Regions from separate parts of the Homo sapiens genome. Here region 2 is linked to region 1. Evidence: fine-mapped expression QTL. Tissue or cell type: whole blood. Region 1 holds a variant in brackets; the other region holds the start of a gene. All regions are shown on one strand. Distances are between the middles of the regions.

The links. PIP is the estimated chance that this variant, and not a neighbour inherited with it, causes the effect.
Region 2: it holds the start of SLC3A1, and the variant in region 1 is fine-mapped to the expression of SLC3A1 in whole blood (TOPMed, PIP 0.95).

What each region holds. Positions count from the first base shown.
Region 1 is chr2:44,243,095-44,245,861 of GRCh38, reverse strand. It overlaps a transcript of PPM1B not described here. Among named protein-coding and RNA genes, the nearest start is that of SLC3A1, 31 kb to the left of the region's middle. The variant A/C (reference allele first, on the strand shown) is at 1,592.
Region 2 is chr2:44,274,338-44,277,104 of GRCh38, reverse strand. SLC3A1 (solute carrier family 3 member 1) reads right to left here and starts at 1,625. Exons shown (of 10, transcript NM_000341.4): 1 at 1,140-1,625. The coding sequence starts at 1,569.

The DNA of each region.
Region 1 (2,767 bases):
AGCTCAAGGTTTCATTTCCATAGGCAGAGACAGGAGTTTTTGGCAGGATTGCAACATTTTTCATACAAGGTTGGCACATAGTTACAGCAATTTGGTTACAGGCAGTGTTTCTCTTGGGAAAGGTACACTGAACACCTTTTACAGAGGGTGTAGTCATGGGTTTTCTGTCATCTGATCTAAGTGAAGCAGGACAACAAAGGAGAAGTTAATCTATAACAAAGGTCATTAATTAAGAAGGCAGGTGGTTTTTGTACCTGATGTAGTTTTATTCTCTCTAGTCATTGTACAGAACAGGAAGAATAATCAGGGAAATAAAAAGTTGTTAGCATATGTGACTCAGATCAACTACATCTCTCTCAAGGCTTAGTGTTTTTTGTGGGTTCCAGGAGCTTTTAAATACTTATTTTCATAGCCCCGAGGGTTAATAAGACAACTGAGGAGAAGAAGCAGAGATGCAACACGACAGGCAGAGCTGATCAAAGATGGAAATGAACTCATTCCTGACACTCACACTAGAGGCTGCTGAAAGATCATCTGGCATTCAGGGTTTTCTCAGCTTTGAGATTTTATAACTATATAGTTAGAGATCTGCCCAGCTATAAAATGTATTACTCTATCTTTGAAGCACACACAAATGACAAATCTTCAGAACTACTGTTAAAACTTCTGGGGACACAAAACCACAAATCATTCAAAGAGTTTGCTTTATTGGCTGTTCTCAAATGGGCAAGCAGCTGTGTGTGTGTGTTTTTGGTGTGAAAGCGCCTAGAAAATGTAGTTTATTTTGGCATATTTTTTCTAGTGTTAAAGCAATCAGCATGGATACGTAAATTGTTGATAGTGAAAGACATTTCATTAGTTTAGTATTGTACACTGTTACACCGCTATAGGAAAAATTCTGTCTCAACTGCCAGATTCACGTGTCCCGCCCTAAAAAAGCCAAAAGCCCTAAAAATACATGTGTATATGTATATATATACACATAGATACACACACACACACTATATATGTGTGTGTGTGTGTATATATATATATATATATCTCAAGTAATTATACACTTCTAAATATAGATACTGGAAGTCACTAAAGTAAAAAAAAAAAAAGGTCTAATATATAAGAGTTATTCAGATTTGTATTCGCGTAGAACAAGCCAGTTCCTTTCATATTAACTATGCACACCACCTCCTTTCAGAAGAGATCTGGGAATGATAAAAACCAGTCGGAAGACGGTCTTAACCGTTTAGAAATCCAGTAACTTCCGATTTAAATGGTGCTTTTAGGAGAAGGAAAACAACGCCAGATTAAAGCCTGCCTTTAACCATAAGAGTCCCTGGAATCAAACCAAAAGTGCTGCCAAGAAGCCACAGGTGTTTATCACATGGACAGGAAAAAATATGATTTTGAAGGGCACAGTGACAGTCCTTCTCTGTCTCCACTAATGGGTTATAAGATTAAAGGTTAACAGCAGTACAAATACTATAATTATATAATGCTGGGTTTATTTTTCGTTCGGGTTTACAAAAAAACCTTTTTGTCCGCGTGCTTCTGAGTGCTTGGAAGGTCTGCCAGCCACTGCCTTTCTTGTCACCAG[A/C]GCTCTCAGCAGGTTTACAGATGGACGTGCCCAAGACTGCCATCTGGTGGATATGATAGAAATTGAAATATATATATATATATGGTTTTTTTTTTTCTTGCAGGATTGGGGTTGGTAAGTAAATAAAACTAGTTGTCTAAGAAGGTATACATTTAAAATATACTGAGGAGGGGGGTTCACTCATCACAGCAATAAGAAATATAAAATAACAAGGAATTAATTTAAGAACGGTGTAGATCATATGGAGAAAATTACAAAACTGTACTGGGGACATTAAAAACACTTGTATAAATAGAAAGATGTAGCATCTTCCTGGTGGAACTCACCTTGGCTAAAGATACCAATGACCCCTACATTAATCTACACATACAACAATTCAATCAACACATTAATGAGATTTTTATTTGGCAGGGATATCTTGGCCAAGTTATTGAAAAATTCATCTGGAAAAATAAACACATTCAATTTTTGTAAATGTAGAATAATAAGGGGCATTTTCCCTATCAGATAATAAAATGTATAGTAAAACTATGATAATTAAGATGACATGGTACTGACACACAACACAAAACGATAAAATAGAATGCTTATAAAAATACAAGCATATACATGAATATGTCATAAAGGACAACTTCAAATAATGAGAAAAGATTGGCTTATGTAACAGCTGGTATAAAGGGATAATGGAAAAATCTATAGGAAAATGTTATATTAGATTTTTACCTCAGAAATAAGTTCCAGTTGTATTAAAGTACAAATATTCAAAAGGCCAATGTCTTAAAATATATGTAAATATTTACTTAGGATATAAAAAATTGTCTTTGTATGCAACTGAAGGTTGATGAAACTGTTAAAGAAAATTCTGAAAATTTTGAATGTAAAAGTATGACACTTGTTGAAACATATCAAATTTAACACAAAAGCTCTTTGTAGTTTACTGTATGTAAATTTTCAATTCTTTTAAAGTAAAATAAAACAAAATAAATCCTATTTGATTTAAAAGTGTATATGAAGGGTAAAAGGGAATATTTTTGACCAAGGAGAGCTCTCTTATACTCTTCAGCTCTGAGCATCTTAGCCCTCTCTCTAGTACCGCTCCAATCATAGTGAGTAGAAAGCCCTTATTCTGCCTGTAGGAAAAGCTGGCATCGAAACAAAAAGTTATTGTGTAAGAAA
Region 2 (2,767 bases), 31 kb before region 1:
AGAAGAGAGAGAATGATAGGAGCGTGAAAAAGAAAAGCCTTCTACTAGTGATTAAAGAAAGCTGCAGGTTTCAAGAATTCATTTGTAGCATTTTAAAGATACATTAAGCCCATTCCTACTTTCCACATTCATATCATCCTGTTTTGTTTTCTTCAAACCAATTATCATTGTAAAACATTAGTTTGTTAGTTTCCTTATTTGTTTCCTATTGTTGCCTTGAAGTAGAGTGACCATACCAACCAATTTGCTCAGAAGTTCCCAGTGTATGCCTGCCATCTGGCATAATTTTACTCTGAAGTATGTTCTGGTTTGAGCAATATATTGTAAGGATGTTTTACACATAACCCACCAAGAAATTAACTTAGCTTTTAAAAAATAATTTTTCACTTTTTTTTTTTTCTTTTTGGAGACGGGGTCTCCCTATGTTGCCTAAGCTGGCTGGCTGAGAGCTCCTGGGCTCAAGCGATCCTCCCACCTCAGCCTCCCAAGTAGCTGCAACTACAGTCATGCGCCACTACCCCTGGTTAATTCTTTACTTGTTTTATACTAATACGGACATGGTTTTAAACAATCCTTAATTCAAGTAATGACGAATGCATACTGCTACCCCTTTTCTACTTCCCTTCCTTTTTTAGAATTTAAACTTTAAGACTCAGCCTATACTTTTTACAGATATCACTTGATTTTTAAAAAAATATTATTTATGCTTTATTCACTAATACACTCCCAGCCACACAGCCAAACTAGCTGCTTCGTATACTGGGAAAGCAATTCCCAACTGCCACCCTGACATATTCAACTATAAAGTCCCCAGAAACAGGACATAGATTTTAGAAGGAAGGCTGCTCTAAGAAGTTAGAATTGATGACTGAACAACTGTATGTACTTAGTGGGCAATAAATTAAACAACTCGTTTGGCTCAAAGGCCTTCAGCAAATAGCCCTTCAGCTAGTAAAATAACTGCTGGGTTCTGCTGAGTGATTTTCTAAGAATATCATAAACAAGGAGCAACTTGGCATGACCAGTCATAATGGAATGTGCTTACTGAACAACCCAGGCATAATTTGGTTCTGAAGAACAAAAGAACCATAAACCAATCTCATCCTGGCACCCACCCTAAATGATCTCTGGGCATGTACCTTTCAGATCTCCGTTCCCATCCTTGTTACTGTCCTTGAAAGACCTTGGGTAGATCTGGTACATGGGCCCCTCCTGCCACCAGTCTAGGCACTTTGGAGAGAGGGCAATGATGGCTATGGTGGCCGCGATGAGCACCAGCACAGAAGCCACTGTGAGCCAGAAGAGGATCTCCCGAGGTATGCGGTAGCGGGCCTGGCCAGAGAACTGGAACAGCACCTCCTTGGGCATCCCCGCATAGGGCTGGACGCCCTTGAAGTCGGGCTCCTGGGAGCCAAGGATGCCCCTGGTGCTGTGCTTCAGGTTGTCTGTTGAGCTTCCTGGATCCGGGGTCTGCTCCAGAATGTCTTCATTATGGACAAACCCGTTGTTTGTCTGGCATCCCTTCATACTCATCTCGATGGAGTCTCTCTTGCTTTTATCTTCAGCCATGTCTCACCGACTTATGTCTTCGGAGTGCCTTCCTGCAGTAAGGGAGGTGGAAGAGTGGCTTGCTGAATGCTTGGTCTTGTTAATGAACTTTGTGTGGTTTATAAATAAACCTAGCTGGACAAAGTCCAGCCAAGGAAGAAAGGGTAAAAGTACAGAGGTTTAAAAAAAAAATCTCGGGACTGGCGCGGTGGTTCATGCCTGTAATCCCAGCACTTTGGGAGGCCGAGGCGGGCAGATCACCAAGGGCAGGAGTTTGAGACTAGCCTGGCCAACATGGCCAAACCCCGTCTCTACTAAAGGTATAAAAATTAGCCAGGCGTGGTGGTGTGCACCTGTAATCCCAGCTGCTCGGGAGGCTGAGGCAGGAGAATCGTTTGACCCCGGAAGACAGACGTTGCAGTGAGCCGAGATCGTACCACTGCACTCCAGCCTGGGCGACAAGAGCGAGAATCCATCCCACAAAAAAAAAAAAAATCTCCACTGGGCATCTTGGCTCACACCTGTAATCCCAGCAGTTTGGGAGGCTGAGGCAGGCAGGTCACCCGAGGTCAAGAGTTTAAGACCAGCCTGGCCAACATGGTGAAACCCCGTCTCTACTAAAAATACAAAAATTAGCCGGGCGTGGTGGTGCATGCCTGTAATCCCAGCTACTCAGGAGGCTGAGGCAGGAGAATCACTTGAACCCAGGAGGCAGAGGTTGCAGTGAGCTGACATCGAGCCATGGCACTCCACCCTGGGTGACAGAGGGAGACTCTGTCTCAAAAAATAAAATAAATAAATAAGAAAGAAAATAAAAATAAAATGAAACTAAAAATAAATTAAAAAATTAAAAATTGGAAACAACCCAGGTAGCTATCATCAGATGGATAGATAAACAATGTGGTTATACATATAGTGAAATATTATTCAGCTTTGAAAAGGAATGAAGGCTGGGCATGGTGGATCACGCCTGTAATCCCAACACTTTGGGAGGACAAGGCGGGTGGATCACTTGAGGTCAGGAATTGGAGACCAGCCTGGCCAACATGGCAAAACCCATCTCTATTAAAAATACAAAAATTAGGCCAGGCGCGGTGGCTCACGCCTGTAATCTCAATACTTTAGGAGGCCGAGGCCAGTGAATCACCTGAGGTTGGGAGTTCAAGACCAGCCTGACCAACATGGAGAAACCCCGTCTCTACTAAAAATACAAAATTAG